Homo sapiens: one gene and its partners. The protein of the gene in region 2 interacts with the protein of the main gene of each other region in a pairwise test. Each region holds a gene or a part of one and is shown on either strand. Other genes may lie near its edges.

The links.
Region 1: the proteins of CPSF6 (region 2) and UBQLN4 interact in a two-hybrid assay, tested with the Homo sapiens proteins (one large-scale study listed by BioGRID and IntAct).
Region 3: the proteins of CPSF6 (region 2) and WWP1 interact in binary tests that used the Homo sapiens proteins (3 or more experiments, as listed by UniProt).
Region 4: the proteins of CPSF6 (region 2) and UBXN6 interact in a two-hybrid assay, tested with the Homo sapiens proteins (one large-scale study listed by IntAct).
Region 5: the proteins of CPSF6 (region 2) and EWSR1 interact in a two-hybrid assay, tested with the Homo sapiens proteins (one large-scale study listed by BioGRID and IntAct).
Region 6: the proteins of CPSF6 (region 2) and PLSCR1 interact in a two-hybrid assay, tested with the Homo sapiens proteins (one large-scale study listed by BioGRID and IntAct).
Region 7: the proteins of CPSF6 (region 2) and KLHL12 interact in a two-hybrid assay, tested with the Homo sapiens proteins (one large-scale study listed by BioGRID and IntAct).

Annotation. Positions count from the first base shown.
Region 1 is NC_000001.11:156,036,799-156,040,298, forward strand, and holds part of UBQLN4 (ubiquilin-4), read right to left. Parts: intron 333-3,500; coding exon 180-332; 3' UTR 1-179. UniProt on the Homo sapiens protein: Regulator of protein degradation that mediates the proteasomal targeting of misfolded, mislocalized or accumulated proteins.
Region 2 is NC_000012.12:69,246,069-69,249,568, reverse strand, and holds part of CPSF6 (cleavage and polyadenylation specificity factor subunit 6), read right to left. Parts: intron 1-3,500. UniProt on the Homo sapiens protein: Component of the cleavage factor Im (CFIm) complex that functions as an activator of the pre-mRNA 3'-end cleavage and polyadenylation processing required for the maturation of pre-mRNA into functional mRNAs.
Region 3 is NC_000008.11:86,408,547-86,412,046, reverse strand, and holds part of WWP1 (NEDD4-like E3 ubiquitin-protein ligase WWP1), read right to left. Parts: intron 510-3,500; coding exon 173-509; intron 1-172. UniProt on the Homo sapiens protein: E3 ubiquitin-protein ligase which accepts ubiquitin from an E2 ubiquitin-conjugating enzyme in the form of a thioester and then directly transfers the ubiquitin to targeted substrates.
Region 4 is NC_000019.10:4,447,795-4,451,294, reverse strand, and holds part of UBXN6 (UBX domain-containing protein 6), read left to right. Parts: intron 1-464; exon of another isoform or gene 465-2,879; coding exon 2,880-2,977; exon of another isoform or gene 2,978-3,500. UniProt on the Homo sapiens protein: May negatively regulate the ATPase activity of VCP, an ATP-driven segregase that associates with different cofactors to control a wide variety of cellular processes.
Region 5 is NC_000022.11:29,281,768-29,285,267, reverse strand, and holds part of EWSR1 (RNA-binding protein EWS), read right to left. Parts: intron 2,879-3,500; coding exon 2,711-2,878; intron 1-2,710. UniProt on the Homo sapiens protein: Binds to ssRNA containing the consensus sequence 5'-AGGUAA-3'. Might normally function as a transcriptional repressor. EWS-fusion-proteins (EFPS) may play a role in the tumorigenic process.
Region 6 is NC_000003.12:146,531,108-146,534,607, forward strand, and holds part of PLSCR1 (phospholipid scramblase 1), read right to left. Parts: intron 2,444-3,500; coding exon 2,363-2,443; intron 1-2,362. UniProt on the Homo sapiens protein: Catalyzes calcium-induced ATP-independent rapid bidirectional and non-specific movement of phospholipids (lipid scrambling or lipid flip-flop) between the inner and outer leaflet of the plasma membrane resulting in collapse of the phospholipid asymmetry which leads to phosphatidylserine externalization on the cell surface.
Region 7 is NC_000001.11:202,917,235-202,920,734, reverse strand, and holds part of KLHL12 (kelch-like protein 12), read left to right. Parts: intron 1-826; coding exon 827-980; intron 981-2,346; coding exon 2,347-2,564; intron 2,565-3,500. UniProt on the Homo sapiens protein: Substrate-specific adapter of a BCR (BTB-CUL3-RBX1) E3 ubiquitin ligase complex that acts as a negative regulator of Wnt signaling pathway and ER-Golgi transport.

The DNA of each region.
Region 1 (3,500 bases), on a different chromosome or scaffold from region 2:
AACCATAATTCTCAGACAGAGCTAAGGGGTTGGAGCCCATGCCTCTAAAGTCACCCTGCTGTTTGGAAAGGATGAGGGAGAAGACGGAAGGGAGGACAAGCTGCAGAGGGTAAGGATTGACAGAAGAACCGAATGCTGACATCGAGGGAGGGGAGAGGCAGGAGGCATGGGCCGAGGGATTAGGAGAGCTGGGAGCCCAGCAGTCTCTCGATAGCTGCGTTGATGTCCCCTCCTGTGGCAATCAGGGCCTGCAGGTTAGCCTCACGATTGATGAAGCCCATGGAGTTGAGCTGCTCCAGCTGCTGCTGAAATCTCACTTCTGGCGTCTGCACCTGGAGGGGACAGGCCTTGTGAAGTGGGCACAGGACCAATCTTGGGGGCCCTATTTGAATTAAGGGTTTCTAAGACCAGCAGGTCTTCTCTAATATCCTCAGAGTCAATCAGGAGGGCAGGGAAGATGAGCTGCAAATGGGGGCCCAGGAGCCTAGGTCCCAAGTCCTAAATAACTGTGTAATGGCCGGGTACGGTGGCTCACGCCTGTAATCCCAGCACTTTAGGAGGCTGAGGCGGGCGGATCACGAGGTCAGAAGATCGAGACCATCCTGGCTAACACGGCGAAACCCCATCTCTACTAAAAATACAAAAAATTCGCTGGGTGTGGTGGTGGGCGCCCTGTAGTCCCAGCTACTCAGGAGGCTGAGGCAGGAGAATGGCGTGAATCCGGGAGGCGGAGCTTGCAGTGAGGCGAGATCGCGCCACTGCACTCCAGCCTGGGCAACAGAGCGAGACTCTGTCTCAAAAAACAAAAACAAAAAAACAAACAAACAAAACTGTGTAATAATATGGCAGGCGGATATCTTTTTTAGATTTTCAAGATAACTGATAGGCCTAGATCAGCATATATTCCTCATTACTTTCCATAAACACTGGAGATGTTAACAGGCACTCCAAAAGCCAAATGTTCTATGGTCAAATAAGATGCATACTAAGCATGACCTCCAAGGCCCCTCCTAATAGTCATCACACGTACAGCCATATGAAAGGCTAGAGAAGGGTCCCAGTTAAGAAGCTATTTAATTTTGTTTCACTGATCAACAGTTATTTATAAAAGAGAAGTATTTCCTTTTTTTTTGAGACAGGGTCTTGCACCCAGGCTGGAATATAGTGGCAGAATCATAGCTCACTGCAGCCTCTATCTCCTGGGCTCAGGTGATCCTTCTCTCTGAGCCTCCTGAGTAGCTGGGGCTACAGGTGTGTACCACCTTGCCCAGCCAATTAAAAAAAAATTTTTTTTTGGCTGGGCATAGTGGCTCATGCCTATAATCCCAGCACTTTGGGAGGCCAAGATGGGCAGTTTGCCTGAGGTCAGGAGTTCAAGACCAGGCTGGCCAACATGGCGAAACCCCATGTCTACTAAAAACACAAAAAATTACCCAGGTGTGGTGGCGCATGCCTGTAGTCCCAACTACTTGGGAGGCTGAGGCAGAAGAATCACTTGAATCCGGGAGGCGGAGGTGCAGTGAGCTGAAATTGCGCCACTGCACTCCAGCCTGGAAGACAGAGTACATCTTAAAAAAACAAAAGTGCGTGGTGGCTCATGCCTGTAATCCCAGCACTTTGGGAGGCTGAGGCAGGTGGATCACTTGAGGTCAGGAGTTCGAGACCAGACTGGCCAACATGGCGATACCCCGAGACTAAAGATACAAAACTTAGTTGGGCATGGTGACAGGAGCCTGTAGTCTCAGCTACTCAGGAGGCTGAGGCAGGAGAATCGCTTGAACCCGGGAGGCGGAGGTTGCAGTGAGCCGAGACTGTGCCATAACACTCCAGCATGGGGGACAGAGTGAGACTCCATCTCAAAAAAATAAAAATAAAATAAAAAATAAAGAAAAAAATTTTTTTAGCAGAGAAAGGGTCTTGCTATGTTGCCCAGGCTGGTCTCAAGTGATCCTCCTGCCTTGGCCTCTCTAACTGCTGGGATTACAGGCATGAGCCACTGCACTAGGTCTTCTTCTTTTTTTTTTTTTTTTGAGACGGAGTCTCGCTCTGTCACCCAGGCTGGATGCAGTGGCATGATCTGCCTCCCGGGTTGAAGCGATTCTCTTGCCTCAGCCTCCTGAATAGCTGGGATTACAGGTGCATGCCACCAAGCCCGGCTAATTTTTGTATTTTTAGTAGAGACGTGGTTTCACCATGTTGGCCAGGTGGGTTTTGAACTCCTGGCCTCAAGTGATACACCCGCCTTGGCCTCCCAAAATGTTGGGATTACAGGCATGAGCCACCATGCCCAGCTTGCACTAAGACTTTTTTTAAAAGAAAAAAATTTTTACAGACTGGGTCTCCCCGCGTTGCCCAGGCTGGTCTCGAACTCCTGGCCTCAAGCAGTCCCCTGCCTTGGCCTCCCAAAGCACTGGGATTACAGGCATGAGCCACACTCCTGGCCTGGCTTTTTTTTTTTTTTTTTTTTTTGAGATGGAGTTTCACTCTTGTTGCCCAGGCTGGAGTAAAATGGCACGATCTCAGCTCACTACAACCTCTGCCTCCCAGGTTCAAGTGACTCTCCTGCCTCAACCTCTCGAGTAGCTGGGATGATAGGCATGCGCCACGACACCCAGCTAATTTTGTATTTTTAGTAGAGACGGGGTTTCTCCACGTTGGTCAGGCTGGTCTTGAACTCCTGACCTCAGGTGATCTGCCTGCCTCGGCCTCCCAAATTGCTGGGATTACAGAAGTGAGCCACCGCCTGGCTAGCTTGGCTTTTCATTCTTGTCATTCCTCTAATTATCTCCTGTAAATGTTTGCCCAAGGGGTATTTGGAAAGCACAAGCCTTGATTATGAACAAAAGACTCTTATAGTGGCCGGGTGCGGTGGCTGACGCCAGTAATCCCAGCACTTTGGGAGACCGAGGCAGGTGGATCACGAGGTCAGGCGATCGAGACCATCCTGGCTAACATGGTGAAACCCCGTCTCTACTAAAAATACAAAAAATTAGCCGGGCGTGGTGGTGGGCGCCTTTAGTCCCAGCTACTCGGGAGGCTGAGGCAGGAGAATGGCCTAAACCCAGGAGGCGGAGCTTGCAGTGAGCTGAGATCCGGCCACTGCACTCCAGCCTGGGCGACAGAGCGAGACTCCGTCTCAAAAAAAAAAAAAAAAAAAAAAAAGACTCTTATAGCTAGAAAGAGTCCAGCAAGCACCGTCCACCTGGTGTTGAAAGGAACAATGTTCGATCCAGAGAAAAGACAGGACTTGCCTGGGGTCACAGAGAAAGTCAGTCACTAAGGCCCCCTGACTTGCAGTATAAAAGCCCTTTCTGGACGGGTGTGGTGGCTCACGCCTATAATCCCAGCACTTTGGGAGCCCGAGGCAGGCAGATCACCTAAGGTCAGGAGTTCGAGACCAGCCTGGACAACATGGTGAAACCCCATCTCTACTAACAATACAAAAAAATTAGCCGGGTGTGGTGGCGCGTGCCTGTAATCCCAGCTACTCGGGAGGTTGA
Region 2 (3,500 bases):
ATTATAAGACAACCTGAAAGTTCAGACGTAACTTACAGATTCTCCCATTAATACAATTTACTAAAGAATTATACAAATGGCACATATGGAGGAGCTAATGGTTTTAGGGACTATTAGCCAAAATAGTCCCTAAATGGATAGAATGACCCAGAGAAAAGCATTTGTTATATGATGGTAAACAGAGCAACAAGATATTATGGGCCCAGGCTACTGTTTTGCTATTTAAAGGAGAGCCAGAATAAGATCTTTTATTTATTTTGTATTTTTTTAATTTTAATTTTTATTTATTTATTTTTTTGAGACGGAGTCTTGCTCTGTCGCCCAGGCTGGAGTGCAGTGGCGCAATCTCGGCTCACTGCAAGCTCCGCCTCCTGGGTTCACGCCATTCTCCTGCCTCAGCCCCCCCCCCCCCCCCCGAGTAGCTGGGACTACAGGCGCCCGCTACCTTGCCCAGCTAATTTCTTGTATTTTTTGTAGAGATGGGGTTTCACCGTGTTAGGCAGGATGGGTTAGCCAGGATGGTCTTGATCTCCTGACCTCGTGATCCGCCCGCCTCGGCCTCCCAAAGTGCTGGGATTACAGGTGTGAGCCACCACACCCGGCCGAGAATAAGATCTTTTTAAAAGAAAAAGAAAAAAGCCTAGTAGGGGAAATATCATTTATATTCCTAAATAAAGGGACCTCAAGTAATCATCAGGTAATCGTTTATGTAATTAATGACTTATCCAATTTACTAGTTACAGAATCTTTACATACCAATTTTACTTGTTACGAGGTAGAATGTCTATAAGACTTATTTAATAAGGGGTCTGGGATCTCAAGGTTAAATCAGAGAACAAAGCTAAATTTAACAAAGGGCAGAAACTAAGACCACAAGTCACTGAATAATGCCATAATTTTATTCTGTTTGTACAGCAATACTAAAATAATCTTTAAGAAATGAGTTTTTGTTAAACAAAGTAACATGCTCAAATTGCAATGACCACAGAAATTAGGAAAAAAGAGGGTAAGTTTTGTTATGAAGTTTCAGTGTGGCTGAAGCTTCAGGCGGTGTGGCTGCAGCAGTAGTTCCATGCACTTAAGATACTAAAAAGTTTCCCACAAGGGGTGTTGGGCACTTTAAACTCTCTTGCAATCCGGTTCTGAACATCAAGTAGAATTACTAATATTATTCAAAGGGAGTTGAGTTTCCATCCTCCTCAGCAGAAACTATAATCACAATATATGGTCTGAGGGAAAGTAAAAAAGAATGGAAGGGTTATTAACAGCAGGACTAAATGTATTTTTAAATTTACACTTTCACTTACATAAATAGGTGAACAGATTCTTTGTTTTCTTCTATTAGCTACAAACCTGTGAAAATGTTTACATAAGTAGACAAAAAATTTACAAGCATAATTGCAGCTACACTAACCTGGTATATCACAATCACTTACTATTTTTGTCCATCCATGAATTCCTATGTTGACACAAACCAATTTTCCACATTGATATGATTCTACCAATATTTAGGATCAGCCATTTTGTCTGGTAGTTGTACTGCTTCCAAGTGGTTGTAGTACGATCCTAATTAAGACCATGGTCCTGGGGTTTGATCTCCATGTGGACTAGTTAGCTTCTCTCTGTTCCAAGGCCACAGCCTGTACACTTAGCCCCAATGGTATACATTTAAACTTTGTGAAAAAACATAATGAATCTGAATACATTTGCTGCCATTACTAAAAATGAAACTCAAAGCACACTCTTTTGTAGTTATCAGTAACCTTCCTTTTAATCAGCTTCATATCACATCAATCCTCCAGCGTAAAAAAAAATACAGAACATACTGAACTTTGTTCTTACTTCATAAAGTGAGAAAATATGCATGATGTTTGCATGAGAAATTATGCAAAATGTATATCACAGGTCATATATAAATAAAGCTCTGTGAGCCTACTGAACAGACTAAAAAAAAGGTTTCCAGTTTGTCAAAGAAATATTTCACGGTATCATTTTTTATTACATGAAGGGTCTTTTCAATTATTACTTTTAATTTTAATGGCATTCAAAAAACAAGAAAATATCAACATCATTCCTCTAATTATCTTTGATACCAAATGTTGCCCAATCTTATCTGCTGTTCATAGTAGCTAGCCAGCTATGTTACATAAAGCTTGGAATAAACAACAGCTCTTAGGGTTTGTTTAAAAAAAAAAAAAACTCACTAATTTTTTTCATTCCCTACCATTCTAAATCACTACAATCATTCTTTAGACAAGGTATTCTCTCAACATTTTACACAACAAGATTATGCTCCACATGATATACAAATATCTGTTGCCAAGCCAGAGAAAATGGATGGCAAAATGACCAAAATCCTATTAGTTCCCTTAAAGTATGGCTTCTCAACCTTTTCATTATCCCTGTCTCCTCCCTCCCTTCAAGAAGTTACTTTTAGACATTTTTTCCCTAATTACCCCTCTTACAATTTTAATATCACAGATATACGATACATACTGTATACCACTATTGGGATGAACTTGTTGGCTGTCAAAATATTCATCATTCTCCCTGACAGGCCTGATATTTTTTTGATGGTTCTAAAATTACAGTAATATCATTCGAGGCTAGGCATGGTGGTTCATGCCTGTTAATCCCACCACTTTGGGAGGCCAAGGCAAGAGGATCCCTTGAGCCCAGGAGTCTAAGACCAGCCTGGGCAACTTAGGAAGATCCCATCTCTACCATAAAAATACATAAATACATACAAAATTCGTGCATTATATGATACTATCAGTAAATGCACAGCAAAGGCCACTTGTTTCAAAGCCTATTTTAAATTATTTCCATTTAGAGAAATATATGAAGGGGGGAAGTTACATTTTGCATTTACAAAATATATCCTATACCTCGGAAAAGAAATACTAGTATGCAAAATCCAATAGCAGATAACCTAATGCATACATTTTTAAAGAAAATATATCATTTTCTGGTTTTATCTAATTATGTTCTCAGTAGTTATTAAAACTGGCTAGTAATCCCTGTAAAAATCCCTTCCTTATATAATGGTAAGGAATTTGGTACTAAAAATATGCCACATAAACCATAGTGGACAATTCACAGGCAACTAAATTAACTGCACCCATAAATAACAAAATAGAGAAGAGTTCTAGCTTCCCTGAACATTTCTATCCATTTTTCTGAATCAATTCTACCTAGCTCATTCTCAACCTGACAGCTTTATTTCAGATGGTTTTCTAGTAAACATAAATAAATCATAAACAATGTTTCTCTGATATTTGTCCAAGAAATTTATTTTCATTAATTGGCTCAACAATTGGCTAGAATACATACATAATGACTGAACGTAAAGCAAAATGATTCATGACATAAAAACTGACTTATCGGATGTCCAGGTCCGTAACTCCTAAGTGAATTCTTTGTTCCAACTACTGCCTCTATACACCTCCATTCTTTTAAAAGTAATTAATCTATTTTTGTGTGTGACAAAGTCTCGTTCT
Region 3 (3,500 bases), on a different chromosome or scaffold from region 2:
TTAGTTTCAAAAAGTACTTGTTTTGTAGCAAGTAAATAAATAGTATGATTCAGATCCCAACTTAGATTTCAAAGTTCTGAACAATGAAAACATTTTATGCACACATTCAATAATCGTATGTTAACAGAGTTGCTACTTAAATGCAAGTCAGACATTAAAAAGCTTAACATACCCTGATGGCAAGGTTTCTGTGTTGGCATTCCCAGACTGCTGCCGTACAGGATCCATACACCCATCTGGCTGTCTTGATTTGGCTGCTTCAAAAGCAGAACTACTTCTAGAATTAGAGGTGTCAGGCTCTAATATACTTCTAGCTTCAGATTCCAATTCTGCACTGGTAGAAGGAATACATTCATTGTTTTCTGAGGAAGTCAGTATTTCTTGAACTGGAGGATCTTCAACAGTAGTACTAGTGCAATTTGGAGACAAGGCATTTTCTTCAGACACTACTGGAGTACCCGTGACAGACGCATTATCAGTTGGTGCAAATGAGGATGATTCTCCATTAACTGAGAAGGGAAAATTAATAAAATCATCTATCAAGTAATGATAAAGCAATCAATTACCTAATCAATTGACTACACTTATTCAGAGCCTAATCCAGACTAAGCAACTACAATCCATTCTCCAAACAGCAGACAAAGTAATATTTTCAAAATATGTAACATAAAATAAAATGGAGATTTTATTTTTGTTGCTCAAAATTTCAGGGATGAATATGTAAATGATAAAAATTTAAGTATGTATAATAATAACAACCTTAAGGAGAGAGGAACCAGCATTAAGATAACCAGTGTTTTCCCTCCAAATCATCAATTCTGAGAGGAAGTCTGTATGGGCCATCTAAACTCTGAAAAATGATCCCTTTCAATCGCCCTTCCCTTGTGTAAGTGGTAGCTAACATCAAACGAACTGTTTTGCCAATAGTAGGAACTGTATGATGGCATCAGTTCTTAAGATAGTACTATAGGGGTTGCAAGAACCCATTCTACACTTTTTCAAGAAATAACCCAGTACTGCAATCCAGTGACACAGTTTTCCTAATTTTCATTTTAAGTGTGATTGATCTAGTTCGACTACGTGTCACTATAAAAATGAGTCAAATTAAAACTGTAAGGGTGAATAGATTACAGAACAAAACCTACTGGAAGACCATATATCAAAGTTCTAATGGAAATGGCAGAGGGAGACATAATCACAAATTTTAGGAGAATTAATGACAAAAAGAAAACACTCAGATTAAATGCTACTGGACATGGCCAAAGAAGTACCTAAAGATGTAAGAAAGAATGGTAACAAAAGAGCTTAGAATTCATTCCAGATACAGAAAAAAAAAAAAAAAGTAAGTAGAAGAAAATGAATTTTGGTCAAAAGACCCAAAAAAAAGATCAGAATTTCCTAATGCACCTGATAAGACTCCAGAACTTACTGAAAATATAGTATCTAAGTCCTCATCCTAGACTTACTGAATCTCTAGGGGAAATCTCTAGGGAAGAACCTGGGGATCTGCATTTTTAACAAATGCATATGATTTTTTTACTCAGGAAAGCTGGAGAAACCATGAAATATACCTTTCCAAGTGTTATAAAGAAAACATGTTTAATATAAATAACATTAGAAATACCACGTACAATTTCATATCAATGAGTTTGAAATTAGCTAAACTAACTCAAGGGAAAGAAAAAAAGACAAATCAGAGCAGCAATGGAAAAGGTGATGAAAGTTCTAATATCATCCCTCCTAAAGGCTCCAGGCTCAGAAAGGTTTTTGAGAAAATTCTATGAAGCCTTTATTGGATAGATCATTCTTATGTTATTTAAGGTGTTATAACACATTAGGGGAGAAAAAGTGAAAAGGAGTGTCCTAACTTATTCTGGGAAGGTAATGTAAACTTTCAAAGCTGAAACTGAACAACAACAGAACAAGAAGACTATAGACTAACATCATGTATAAATTCAAGGATGATTTGATATTAGGAAACTACATTAGAAAATCTACTGTTAGCAGATTAAAGGATAAACGTCATATGATTATTTTCAAAACAAACCAAAAGCATTCAAGAAAATCTTGGTAAAATGCCTGATAAGAAGAATCATGAAAAATTAAGAAGTAATCTAGATTATCTATCACAAACCTACAGTCATTAATATACAATAATTGTAAAACATTTTAAGAACTTTTTTTTTTGAGAAGGTGTCTCGCTCTGTGGCCCAGACTGGAGTGCAGTGGCACAATCACAGCTCACTGCAACCTCCACCTCCCGGGTTCAAACGGTTCTCCTTCCTCAGCCCCCCAGTAGCCGGGATTACAGGCACCCGCCACCACGCCTGGTTAGTTTTCCTATTTTTTGGTAGAGATGGGCTTTCACCTTGTTGGCCAGGCCAGTCTTGAACTCCTGACCTCAAATGATCCACCCAACTTGGCCTCCCAAAGTTCTGGGATTACAGGCATGAGCCACTGTGCCCAGCCTATTGTAAGAACTTCTATTAAGATCAAGAATAAAGTAAAATCAGGGCTGGGCACAGTGGCTCACGCCTGTAATCCCAGCACTTTGGGAGGCCGAGGCGGGTGGATCACGAGGTCAGGAGTTTGAGACCACCCTGACCAACACGGTGAAACCCTGTCTCTACCAAAAAATAGGAAAATTAGCTGGGTGTGGTGGTTGTGTGCCTGTAATCCCAGCTACTCAGGAGGCTGAGGCAGAAGTATTGCTTGAATCCGGGAGGTAGAGGTTGCAGTGAGCCAGGATCACGCCACTGTACTCCAACCTGGGCAAAAGAGCAAGACTCCGTCTGAAGAAAAAAAAAAAAAAAAAAAAAAGAAAGAAAAAGAAAAAGAATAAATTAAAATCAGCAACAAAACAAGGAAGATCACAATTACCAAGCCAATTCAGTATTGATTATATTTGACAATCCATTAAGAAAAGTCATAACAACATTGGAAAGAATATGGTAAAACTCATTTGTAGTGAAAATGACAAATAGATTATTTATTTAGAATACACAAGAAAATTTTTTTAAAAACCCCATTAGAACCAATTAATTGGAGCTAAAACATTTCAGCAAAATGAACAGACACAAGATCAACAACAAGATTACTTCAAGACCTATCCGAAGAAAAAAAATTTTTTTTTTTTTGAGACAGAGTCTTGCTCTGTCACCCAGGTTGGAGTGCAGTAGCGCGATCTCAGCTCACTGAAACCTCAGCACCCCAGGTTCAAGCAATTCTCCTGCCCCAGCCTCCCAAGTAGCAGGGATTATAGGCATGCGTCACCACACCCGGCTAAATTTTTTTGCATTTTTAGGATTTCATTATGTTGCCCAGGCTGGACTCGAACTCCTGACCTCAAGTGATTCCCCAGCCTGGGCCTCCCAAAATGCTGGGATTACAGGCGTAAGCCACTGCACAACCAGCGTGAAGAAAACACTTTAAAAAACATTACTAAAAAGAATGAATACAGACATAAAATATCTCTCAATGGGAAGATTCAGTATTGTTAA
Region 4 (3,500 bases), on a different chromosome or scaffold from region 2:
CCTGAGGTCAGAAGTTCCAAGACCAGCCTGGTCAACATAGTGAAACCCCCTATCTACTAAATATACAAAAATTAGCCAGGCGTGGTGACAGGCGCCTGTAATCCCAGCTACTCAGGAGACTGAGGCAGGAGAATCGCTTGAACCTGGGAGGTGGAGGTTGCAGTGAGCCCAGATCACGCCATTGAGCTCCAGCGTGGACACTGGGTGACAAGAGCGAAACTTCATCTTAAAAACAAAACAAAACAAAATAGTAATAGTTCCATAGACTCTCCAGACTCACACCCACTCCAGCAGTGTGTGCAAAAGCACCCGTGTCCCCATCCTCTCACCATACTGTAAATCACCAAACTTTGATCTTTACGCCTGTTGGTAGGTGAAAATAACATCTCAGGATAGAGTTAATTTGCACTTTCCTTATTTTGGATTGGCCATGTTTCATATGAGAATGCGTCCTTTCTACATTATTTAGTAGATAGTTTGTCTTTTTATTAGTGATTTGTAGGCACTCTTTTTTTTTTTTTTTTTTTTTTTTTTTTGAGACAGAGTCTCGCTCTGTCGCCCAGGCTGGAGTGCAGTGGCGCCATCTCTGCTCACTGCAAGCTCCGCCTACGAGGTTCACACCATTCTCCTGCCTCAGCCTCCCGAGTAGCTGGGACCACAGGCGAACCGCCACCACGCCCAGCTGATTCTTTGTATTTTTAGTAGAGACGGGGTTTCACCATGTTAGCCAGGATGGTCTCGATCTCCTGACCTCGTGATCCGCCCGCCTCGGCCTCCCAAAGTGCTGGGATTACAGGCGGGAGCCACCGTGCCCGGCAGCACTCTTTACATATTAGGCAATTTAGGCTTTTGCCTATGATATGAGTTGCACATGTTTCCCTCTAGTTGCTTCTATGTTGGCTCTGCTTATGGTCACTTTGCTGTGTAGGATTTTTTGATCTCTGTATAATTAAATGTGTCAGTTTTAGTTCATGGCTTTTGGGTTTGGGGTCATTCTTAGAAATGCCTTCCCCATTTCCATGCTGAGAGAATTCTTTTGTGGCCTCTCCAGTGCTTTTTTTTTTTTTTTTTTTGAGACAGAGTCTTGCTGTCACCAGGCTGGAGTGCAGTGGTGCAATCTCAGCTCACTGCAACCTCTGCTTCCCGGGTTCAAGCAATTCACCTGCCTCAGCCTCCCAAGTAGCTGGGACTACAGGTGCACGCCACCACACCCGGGCTAACTTTTGTATTTTAGAGATGAGGTTTCACCATGTTGGCCGGGATGGTCTCGCTCTCCTAATCTCGTGATCCGACCGCCTCGGCCTCCCAAAGTGCTGGGATTCCAGGCATGAGCCACCGTGCCCGGCCTCCAGAGCTTTTCTTCTGGCTTCTCCTTGACTGCTTGCTTGTTTCCATGGTTGAAGCTTTGATCCAGCTGGAGCATGTTATTATGTAACATGGTGGGATGGAGCTGATGTAATTTTTTTTTTAGATCTTGGCTCAGCTTTCTTCTCAGCCCCACCTGTCGAGAGCACCTGTCTTTTGCTTACAGCTGTGAAATCCCACCTTTCTCACAAAGTACATTCCTGTATGGATTTGGACCCCTTCCTGGCTGCTGTTCCTTCGTCCCTTGTCTGTGCATGTACCCAGCTCCTGACCTAAGCCTGGCAGCCAGTCGCCCAAAACGCCCGAGGCCCGCTTTTGGAGCTGACACGCTTCCCTTGGCTGGTGTGCTGTCCCGGGCGCTCTGATCCCAAGGAAGCTGTTGTCTTGGGGACATGCCCATCTGGCAGCTCTGCCTCTCTGCATCCACGTGCTCTGTCCCGCTCCCCACATCATCTCAGCAACTAAACCGGCAGACTGGGCCGGGTCCCAATTTTCAGTTGGCATGAGCCCCGGCTCAGTGTGTAGGTCATTGGTCCGTGTGACGCAGGGGGCTGCTGAGGGACCCTGCTGTGCAGTTGAGGGTGGGGGGTGGTGGGTGGAGCTCTGGGCTGCCTGGGCAGGTGGCCCGAATCCTGACACATGGCCCTGGGCTGCCCTTCTGTTCACCCGCCCTCGTCTGGGCAGCCCAGGGAGGTGCGGGTGGCAGCCCTGCTTCCCAGGCCATGGGTGGCTCTCTGGGTGTGGCCGTGTGTGATGGCTGTGCCGAGCGTGGATTTGTGCCCCAATCTTTTCCAGGTCTTAGGGTACGTACTGTTCTCAGCCTCTCCATGCTGGGACGCTGTTCGCAGTCAGCAGGGCTGGTTCTGGGAAACCCCCAGAGTTCCAGCTATGACTTCTCCCCTCCCCCGGTAACATAGGTGGATAGGTGGGACCTCGGGGAGGGGCAGGGGCTGGGGGTATCCGTCTTCCAGCTATTGAGTTTCAGACATTGAGGGTTGCAGACTCATTTGTGTCCTCTCTGCCACCTGCCATCCCTGTGACCCTGGACGATGGGCCTCTCGGTCTCTTTGTAAACATGAGGCCCGGGAGTGGTTCCAGAACGTCCATCATGGGGCTGCGAGAGCAGGAGGGATGGGGCGTCCATGGTGGCGGGAGGTTCTGTAAGTGGCGGTGGCCTTGATGGATCTCAGCACTGAGGTCGAGTTCTAAAGCCAGAGTGTGAGGCACAGTTCTGTCGCGTCACACTGGCTTCCAAGTCCCATGGATCTAGCCTTGAGAAGGCGGAAGGGGAGACTTGAGTTCTGCTGGGTCTTGGCTGCGTCGCCTCTGCCCTGGGGCGTGGGCAGGGCTGCGGTCTTGGAGGGTCTCTCTTTTCCTTTCTGTGATGAGCGCACAGCTGGGGCCGCTCCAAGCCGCTGTTCTGCCTTCCTTTTCCTGCCCCTGTTACCTGGGCAGCGGAGGGCCGTGCGGCCCGGGCTCTCAGTGAGTGGCTTTCCCTGCTTCCCTCCTCCCAGCACTTCTCCACCGACCCAGTGGCCGCCTCCATCATGAAGATCTACACGTTCAACAAAGACCAGGACCGGGTGAAGCTGGGTGTGGACACCATTGCCAAGTGAGCGTGTGGCCCCTTTGCCCTGCCTGGCCCCTCCAGCTCATCCCAGCACCCCTCCCACTGGGGCTGTCACCCCCTCTGGCCCCCTCATTACCTGCTGAGGTGGGTTGGGAAGGAGCATAGGCCGAGAGTGAGGCAGCTCCACCCAGAGGCCTCAGGCAAAGGGCTGGGCCTCCTTGGGCCTCAGTTTACCCGTGTGCAAAATGAAGGTGTTGAAGGAATCAGGGGTTTCCCACCCTGGCTTCCTTGGGGAACATGTGGAGGAGGCAGGGTCCCACCCCACTCCCCGGGTCTCAGGATCGGGGGCAGGCCTGGAGGTCCACGCTGCCCGCCAACGCCGAGGGAGCACCCCGCAGGAGCCCCCTGCTGGCACTGCGGCCCTTCAGCTCTGGCTCTCCACTCTTCCGGCACTGTGGCTTCCCCACCGCTGTGGTTAATTGTGCCCTTCCAGGGCTGGTGGGACGGTGAGGGGTTCCGTGGGGCTCCTGCTGGCACCAGGGGTGGGCTCCATGGGGTGTCCGAG
Region 5 (3,500 bases), on a different chromosome or scaffold from region 2:
CCTATAGTCCCAGCTACTCGAGAGGCTGCGGCAAGAGAACTGTTTAAACCTGGAAGGCAGAGGCTGCAGTGAGCCAAGACAGCGCCACTGCACTCCAACCTGGGCAACAGAGCAAAACTCCATCTCAAAAAAAAAAAAAAAAAAACAAGGGCCAGAAGCAGTGGCTCACACCTGTAATCCCAGCACTTTGGGAGGCAGAGACGGGTGGATCACCTGAGGTCAGGGGTTCGAGACTAGCCTGACCAACATGGAAAAACACCGTCTCTACTAAAAATACAAAATTAGCTGTGTGTGGTGGCACATGCCTATAATGCCAGCTACTTGGGAGGCTGACGTAGGAGAATCACTTTAACCTGGGAGGCGAGGGTTGCGGTGAGCCAAGATCGCACCATTGCACTCCAGCCTAGGTAACAGGAGTGAAACTCCGTCTCAAAAAAACAAAACAAAACACACACAAAAACAAAAAAACCCATCTGGTATTAAGCTTTACAAATCATGATGAGAAACAGTAAGGACACATATTTTAAAGTCCGATTAAACTAGGCCAGGAAGTTCGAGGCTACAGGGGGCTACGACTGTGTCACTGTACCCCAGCCTGGACAACAGAGTGAGACCCGGTCTCCAAAAATAAACAAACAAACAAAGCTTCTAACACACCACATCCCTCACCATTGCTGTATGAATTCAATAATCTCTCACTGTGTACCTATCCAACTTGCCAGATTAACTGCTATTAACTGCTCTCAATGCAATAGGTACGAACCTGCTCTGTGGAAGAAGGGTTGTAAGCCCTACCCACTTTTGCTCCAAGCTGGCTGTATGGAGAGACACCCAATCAATTCTACTTGTTCCTAAACCTGTTCACATCTGCTGCAAAACAATGAAATGAGTGCAAAAAAGGGAACCGCTACTTCTAGCAAAACTTTCAGGGCACAATTCAAACAATTTGAAAACCCACATCTAATTAAACATGGGTTAAGAAAACTTGCAGGCTGGGCATGGTGGCTCACACCTGTAATCCCATAATCCCAGCACTTTGGGAGGCCAAGGTGGGCGGATCACTTGAGGCCAGGAGTTCAAGACCAGCCTGGCCAACATTGTGAAACCCTGTATCTACTAAAAATACAAAAACTGGGCCAGGCGCAGTGGCTCATGCCTGTATTCCCAGCACTTTGGGAGGCCGAGGCAGGCGGATCACCTGAGGATGGGAGTTCAAGACCAGCCTGACCAACATGGAGAAACCCCGTCTCTACTAAAAATACAAAATTAGCCGGTTGTGGTGGCGTCTGTATCTAATCCCAGCTACTAGGGAGGCTGAGGCAGGAGAATCGCTTGAACCCAGGAGGCAGAGGTTGCGGTGAGCCAAGATCACGCCATTGCACTCCAGCCTGGGCAACAAGAGCAAAACTCCATCTCAAAACAAACAAACAAACTGGCTGGGCGCAGGGGCTCGCGCCTGTCACCCCAGCACTTTGGGAGGTGGAGGCGGGTGGATCACCTGAGGTCAGGAATTCCAGACAAGCCTGGCCCACATGGTGAAACCCTGTCTCTACTAAAAATACAAAAAAAAAAATTTTTGCCAGGTGTGGTAGTGAGCACTTGTAATCCCAGCTACTCAGGAGGCTGAAGCAGGAGAATCACTTGAACCCAGGAGGTGGAAACTGCAGTAAGCCGAGATTGTGCCATTGCACTCCAGCCTGGGCAACAAGAGCGAAACTCCATCTCAAAACAACAATAAAACAAAAAGAAAAGTTAGTCAGGTGTGGTGGCATGCACTTGCAGTCCCAGCTACTCGGGAGGCTGAGGCATGAGAATCCCTAGGAGGCAGAGGTTGCAGTGAGCGGAGATCGTGCCACTGCACTCCAGCCTGTGCAACAGAGTGAGACTCTGTCTCAAAAAAGAAAACTTGGCCAGGCGATAATAATAAAAATAAAATAAAAAGAGTTGGCCCATACATTAAAAGGTTAGTGCATGAATAAACCTTTATGTGTTAGGTAAAATGTAAAATGATTAAGGTGAATTATAATGCCCTGCGCTTTACTTATCCTAACTGCATTGGGGAAGATGGCTCTTACATCTATTTACATGCTTTCATATACTTCTGCTTCCCATCTGAGTTAACTAAAACAGCAAAAGGAAGAAACTTAAAGAAAGAACTTAGAGTGGTAAAAATGTTTTTGTATTTAGAAAGAATAGTTATTAGCTGGGCCGGGTGCGGTGGCTCACGCCTGTAATCCCAGCACTGTGGGAGGCCGAGATGGGTGGATCACGAGGTCAGGAGATTGAGACCATCCTGGCCAACACAGTGAAACCCTGTCTCTACTAAAAATACAAAAAATTAGCTGGGCGTGGTGGCGGGCACCCGTAGTCCCAGCTACTCGGGAGGTTGAGGCAGGAGAATGGCGTGAACCCAGGAGGTGGAGCTTGCAGTGAGCCGAGATCGCGCCACTGCACTCCAGCCTGGGCGACAGAGAGAGACTCCGTCTCGGGGGAAAAAAAAAAAAAAAGAAAAAAGAATAGTTATTAGCTGCCAGGCAACACTATGGGACCCTAGATCTCAGGCTTTAATGTAACCAAGTATGGTCAGATGACTTATCACTGCGACAGTCAGATAACATACCTTAGCTGAAGAAGTCAAAGCAAGCTGGTCAACAACCTGAAAAAAACTGTTTTGTCACTGTTTTTGTTTTGCCACAAAAAGTAGACTGACCTGGTAGGAGGGTAGGATGGAGGTGCAGTGACTGGCTGCATGGGGTAGCTCCCAGGTACCTGGGGATAACTGTAGTTACTCTGTCCATATCCTAGGCTGGGCTGGTTGTAACCCCCTGTGCTAGATTGAGGTTGACTAGTCTCAGTGGGCTTGTTTCCATCCTGCGGTCTAAGAGGAGAAATAATAAATAAAATTAAAAAGTGACTTTTTTTGTGTGGTTGGTCAACCACAAAACTCCTGGGTAAGAATGCTACAAAGCTACGAGCAATAAGCAATGTTATGATTAAGCCTGGAAATAAATACAATAATAAATACAATCCTAAAGTAAACTACATCAAACTCAGTGTCGGTCCAACTATATTTGCTTGAAGACAACACTAAGGAAGGGGGAGAATCAATCATATCCACAGAAGAGACATTAATATGCTCCATTCATCACAGTAAACGCTATAAAAGTGCGTTGCGATATTGTGTGCTACCAGTTTAGGTGATCCGGGAGAAGTGATCTGTTAGGGAATAAATGCTTTTTCTCAAAGGGGACTGCTGAAGACCAGAAACTAACAATAATGTTAAGTTTTAGGTTGAAGTAACATTTACGTAAGTCCATGGCATCATAAATTTAGAGAATTTGTGGGTTTATGTTTCTCATTTATTAAAAACAGACCAGGTCAAGGCCAGGCGAGAATGGCTCATGCCTATAATCCCAGCACTTTGGGAGGCCGAGGAGGGCGGATCACGAGGTCAGCAGATTGAGACCATCCTGGCTAAGACAGTGAAACCCTGTCTCTAC
Region 6 (3,500 bases), on a different chromosome or scaffold from region 2:
AGGGAAGGAGCAGGAACAGCTGCCTTGAGGGGTCACCTTTATGCTGAGATCTGAAGGATGCACAGGAGTTCAGGAGGCCAGAGTCACAGAAAGAACATTTCAGAGCAACGTCCTGGGACAGTAACTAACATAGGCCTTTAAAAATCTGAAAAATAGCCAGTCTAGCTGAATAACAGCAAGCCAGGCTCAAGAGGAAGTTAAAGAGAGAGCATGGAAAAGGCCATCCTGAGTTTAGTGTTAGCCTTTATCCTAAAAGTAATAGGCCACTAATAAAATAGGGGCTCTACACTCTCTGTAATATGAGCAGATTTACATTTTTAAAGATCACTGGGGTCAGCACAGAAACCAGACCATAGGCAGACCAGTGGGGATATGGAGATGTGAGTTAATTTCTTACATTTTTAACATCATCATAATTTTCCCCAGACTCTGAAAGTATGATGGATTACTCCTCAAATCAATGAATTAAGCATAAAGAATTACCTGAAATTTGAATACTAGTATCATTTATGTAAAGACTAATTGATTTAAAATATTTTAAATATGTTAGCAAATACTTGTCATTTATAATTTGCAAGCATTGTGCTCAGTGTTTTACATATACTCTCATTTACTCTACAAAGCAACCTACATTGAAAATATCACCCTTATTTATAGATAGGAACTCTGAGGCTTTGAGGTACTGCAACTTGTTTAAACTACCACATAACTATTAGTACAGAAGGCAGAACCTGGTTTACCAGCACATTTACCTATACGAATTTTTTTTTTAAAGTAGGCAGAACTTGAAGCCTGATACAAACTTCCTATGCCTCAGCTTTCCCACATACATAATGGGGATAACTGACAGTATTTACCTCATAAGAGTATTCTAAGAATTAAAAGTGTTAGTCCACATTAACTCCACATTTAAAACAATGACTAAAGCATGGTAAGATCTCAATTTTAAATTATCCTTACTCTTAGCATCGTTATCTTAAGACTTGTGCTATATGTAATCTTGGACTTGAGAAACAAAATCAAGCTGTAGAGCCATATATATCTATATATATAAACAAACTCTCAAGTCTGATTATATCTGAACTGTATTATTTATGTATATCTACTTTTAATTAGTGATAGGGTGGATTAAATCATTCTCTTAAGTGCCTTGGATGAATATTATAGACTTACTAATGATTTTTCAAACACCAACCCTATAAGAATTTAGAGCAGATGTTCTCAACCCTGGCTTCACCTTAGAATCACTTGGGGTGTTAAAAGATTACTATTCCTTGAGTCCCACCACTGGAAGCTATGATTTAATTTTTCTGGAATAGTGCCTTTGCACTACTATTTTTAAGTGCTTCTGGGTGATGATACTTCAGTGCAGACAAGGTTGCCATGAGCCACCACTTGAGAGTCTGAGCTTATCTAGCTCATATTCTTTCAGTTGCAAACATCTGGATGAGATCCGGGACCCGCAGGGAGGTTTCTTGCTAGGCAATTAAACATGACATTCAGCTCCTAAGCACATTTGTTTACTCAGAGAAGAAAACACAGTGGGTACATCCTTCTATCCAAACCACATTCCCTTTGGTCCTAAATCCTCAGGATGCTCTTTCAAGATGTGGGTAGCCTGTCTGCTTGTAAATCTGGACATGCCATGGACTTTGCTATTTTTAAAGTTCTAGTAGTTTTGATAACTGCATTTGCCTAAATGAAAATCTCTGAATTCTTTCAGGCATTGGTTGAAAAGAAAAAATGTACTCAATTATGTATGTAGTCAAATGACTCAATTACTTTTCTTAGAAATACAGGGTGGAATCAGCATATATATAAAAATAAAGCTTTCATATACATTATAAAATTAAAATGAGAATTATTCCCAGGTAACTGAATTTCTATTACTTTCAGTTTTAAGCAGTCTTACTATTTTGATGTGACTCTCACTGAACACATGCCAAGCTACTACATGACTCAGTTTATCAGAAATAAATTTCCTAAATGTGATTAAATGATCATAATTTTCAGAACAGATGGAGGATCAATAAAATATTTTACTTAACATTTGTATTTTAGGATGTACAGTCTTGTATTTCATTTGCTAAATGTAAACCTAATGTTGTTTTTACTAGCTTTCTTTATACCTTTACTGTCCTCTATAAATAAAAATTACTTCTGTGCAAAATGATAGCCAAATAAAAATAATCAAGAACAACTAGGCTGCCAAAATTTCATTAATATAATTTTAAAAAAAGAACTACTAAAATAAAAACAAATGCACAATTCTCTCTCTCTCTTACTCTCTCTCTCCCACTCTCACTCTCTCTCTCTGTCTCTCAATTAATTTTACTTTTTCTTCTTTCAGCAACTGCTTTACCTTGGAATGCTGTCGGTGGATACTGAGGAGGATACCCAACTGGCAAGTTTGTTTCCGGGTGAGAAGCATTCATCTGTGAGTCTGCAATTCAAGGAGAGGTAAATAGATGTCTGATTAAATAAAATATATATTAGAAAGAAACAATGTATTGTACTTAGATAATTGTAACTTGTATGTTCTTATGCTGTATTGAAATAGGGAAAGTAAAATTTTCACTTAACGTAAGCTGTGCCTGTTCTCAGAGCTAATTTGCAACTAGCAAATTTGTTTCAAACAAATTCTCCTTTAGATAAAATGAGACAGTTAAGTTACTGGGGCTGAATTACCAGTTTTTGAAACATCCCTGATGAATGTTCAGTTCCATGTTTTGTTGATAATAAAACAAAGATAGCTTTAAAATTACATACAGACTACGAAGAAAGAGATAAATGAAATTAATGGGATGTGAAGATGGTAGAATTATGGATGATTTTAAAGATATCTATCATCATTGCTGTAAGTATTATTTTAAATATTTAAAATAATGAATATACTTCAGTATTTATATATGTTATGCTTACTCTGGAACTACACCAATGAAGTTGAACCATATGAAATTCCCCAAATATGACTGTTTTTGACCCACAAAAGCCATGTTTAATTACAATACACTAGCATATTAAACTTTGTTATTTGCTAATAAGGCTTGAGTAAACTTAATATATGCACAAATGGTTCAACCTCCTAAATATTAATATTCATGTCTATCTAGTCATTCGGTTACCTACCGCAGCCAGTCTCTAAATATTTACTGAGCATGTCCTGTGTCACCCTTGAATTAGGCTCTGTGGCTACAATGGCTCTGCTTTCATACAGCTTAAGGTGCAGTAGACACTACACTTATCTCCTTATCTGTTTCCTTATGAATTACTAACTGTAAATTCAAAGTCTTTTGTTTTAGAATCATGGAGACATGGCATCAATATAGAAGAACATATAGGTCAAACTTTCACTGTAACACATTTTTCTGTATGTGTCTCTATTATGAACTTTCAAAGACCACTCAACTTGTGAATCGTGTGGTTTTATCAGGAAGATTGGATTGTTTCCCCCACCCCCTGCCCCGGCCTTTCTCCTTCATAAATAGCTTCATGATGAC
Region 7 (3,500 bases), on a different chromosome or scaffold from region 2:
TTCATTTGGAAAGCTACAGATAATGTGCCATATTTGCTTTATTAAAATCCAACAAAATTGGCCGGGCGCGGTGGCTCACGCCTGTAATCCCAGCACTTTGGGAGGCTGAGGCAGGCGGATCACGAGGTGAGGAGATCGAGACCATCCTGGCTAACACGGTGAAACCCCGTCTCTACTAAAAGTACAAAAAATTAGCCGGGCGTGGTGGCGGGCGCCTGTAGTCCAAACTACTCGGGAGGCTGAGCCAGGAGAATGGCATGAACCCAGGAGGTGGAGCTTGCAGTGAGCCGAGATGGCACCACTGCACTCCAGCCTGGGAAACAGTGCAAGATTCCGTCTCAAAAAAAAAAAAAAAAAAAAAAAAATCCAACAAAATAGAGCATAATTTTATTTTTTTATTTTCTTTCTTTTTTATTTTTTTGAAATGGAGTCTCACTCTGGTGCCCAGGCTGGAGTGGAGTGGCACAATCTTGGCTCTCTGCAACCTTCGCCTCCTGGGTTGAAGCAATTCTCCTGCCTCAGCCTCCTGAGTAGCTGGGACTACAGGCATGTGCCACCATGCCCAACTAATTTTTGTATTTCTAGTGGAGACGGGGTTTCACTGTGTTGGCCAGGCTGGTCTTGAATTCCTGACCTCAGGTGATTTGCCTGCCTTAGCCTCTCAAAGTGCTGGGATTACAGGCATGAGCCACCACGCCTGGCCTGTAATTTTTAAAGATAAATGTTCAATTAATATTATTAACATCTCTAAGCTCTTAGATATGAGATTCTGCCTTTATCTTGTGGAATTATAACCATCATTCTTTTATACCTTTTGAATTTTCAGCTCTCAGAGAAGGGGAAACCTTATGTTGACATCCAAGGTTTGACTGCCTCTACCATGGAAATTTTATTGGACTTTGTGTACACAGAAACAGTACATGTGACAGTGGAGAATGTACAAGAACTGCTTCCTGCAGCCTGTCTGCTTCAGTTGAAAGGTACAGACATTAAAACTTGCTATTGTTTATGTCAAAATAGCCCTGGAAAGGTTGAAAATTAATAGTGTAAACTTAATCATGAACATTTTGGAGACAAACTATGGATGTTCATGTTTGCTGGCCATGGCTTTTGTCTCATTGAGCAATAAGAGATCAGATGTCAATAGCACTATAAAGGAACTTCTCCAGATATGAGTATTTGGCTCTATAAAAGAGAGCATTTGCACCTTTTCTGTTTTAAAAAAAAAATGGAGGAAGGAGAAATTATGTGTTTTCTTACATACATGTATGTAACACACCTATAAGGAAATATAATAAAAAAGTGATACTATACATAGCCTACATGGATACTCTTTATCTATCTGGCCATTAAGTGGTAGTATTTCATTAAGATACATGAAATTTAAATTGATGCACAAAATATTAAAGTATGATATTTTCACAGGATTACAGGTGGTTTGTTTTCCCTTACAATTCCCAGGTTTTTTGTTTTGTTTTTGAGACAGAGTCTCACTCTGTCACCCAGATTAGAGCACAGTGGTGCAATCACAGCTCACTGTATCCTTGAATTCTTGGGCTCAAGCAATTCTCACACCTCAGCCTCCTGAGTAGCTGGGACCACAGGTGCATGCCACCACACCCAGCTAATTAAAACAAAATTTTTTTGTGTGGAGATGAGTTCTCTCTATGTTGCTCAGGCTGGTCTCAAGCTCGTGGGCTCGAGTGATCCTCCCACCTTGCCTCCCAGAATGCTGGAATTATAGGCACGAGCCACCGTTCCTGGTCCCCAGTTTTTCTTTTTTAACATTCAGTTATGTTTTCAGTTTTTATATATACATAATTGACACACTTTTAGTTTTTAATACATGATTTAAACAGTGTGAAGCTTTTGCATTAGTGCATAGCCATAACATTAAAATACTCTGAACTTTTCAATTAGATAAATATGAGATTTGTTATTACTATCTTCTCCTTTTCTTTCACTCTAGTCTTTTAGTAAGTTTTCATGTAGAGTAGAAAATGGATACATTATGCTGAATTCGCAATTGGTTTTATAGTTTGATTCCCAAGAGTTTTATAGGCATTTTTGTTGAATTGTGCCAGGTCTCTGGATGTGATTCATCTTGCAATACTCATTTTAAAGATTAAGCAGAGACAGGTGTAAAGGTCTTGCTGAAAGTGGCACAGTACATAAGCCAGAAATAGAGTTTAAGTTCCTTAAGCATAGAATTTCTAATCTGTTTCTTAGGTGTTGAAACAAGGGTTCATCTGATAACATGTAGAGAAGATGCTGAGATACAAGAATATATCCTAGATCACACCTGTCCAACTATTCTAAAGTGTTTGCTGCCTGTGTCTGTCCTAGGTGTGAAACAAGCCTGCTGTGAGTTCTTAGAAAGTCAGTTGGACCCTTCTAATTGCCTGGGTATTAGGGATTTTGCTGAAACCCACAATTGTGTTGACCTGATGCAAGCAGCTGAGGTTTTTAGCCAGAAGCATTTTCCTGAAGTGGTACAGCATGAAGAGTTCATTCTTCTGAGTCAAGGAGAGGTGGAAAAGCTAATCAAGTGCGACGAAATTCAGGTACGGATTTGTCTTGATGTTATGGTTTCTTCAAGATTGGGCAATTACAAAACTTGCAAATAGGATGCAGTTACTTACCATCAGGGCTTCATAATTAAGTGTGCATTTTGGCTCAAAGATTTCATTAACCCCTCCTGTACCAAATTTATTTGCATTTTTATGGAGAGGGAGTTTGCCACTTTCTTCAATTAGATATATGATCCCAGTGGGTAAGAATCACTATTCAACAGAGTATAGAATAAGCAGAAATTGGAAGTAAAGTAGGTATCTGTAGACCACTTCTCTATTACCCGTTCACTCATTTCACAAACATTTATTGAGAATATCTACTATGTAGCACTTAACTATGCCAGGTGCTACAGATCCCCAAGTGGGTAAATATAGTTCTTGCTTTCAGAAAATTCACAACCTGCTAGTAGAGACAGAGATATAGACAAAAAAAATGTTATAAAGAGGATCATGAGAATAGTGAGCCTATACAAAGTAAGGACATTACATAGAAGAAAGAAGAATAAACCTTTGCTCAGGAGTGGATCAGAAATGAAGAGACAAAAGTTTGGAAGTGAGGATCTACAGAAGCAGGAGCCAAATCATAACTGTCTTGTGAGGATGCAGCGGTTGGAAGGGAGGGACACATGAACTGGATGTTAAAGGAATAGTAGGCCAGGTGCAGTGGCCTATGCCTGTAATCCCAGCACTTTGGGAGGCTGAGGCAGAACTGCTTGTGTCCAGGAGTTTGATACTAGCCTGGGCAACATGGCAAAACCCTGTCTCTACAAAAAAATAAAATTAGCCTGGCATGGTGGTGAGCACCTGTGGTCCCAGCTACTTGAGAGGCTGAGGTGGGAGGATCTCTGGAGCCTGGGAGTTTGAGGCTGCAGTGAGCCATGATCGCACCACTGCACTCTAGCCTAGGCAACAGAGGGAGACCCTGTC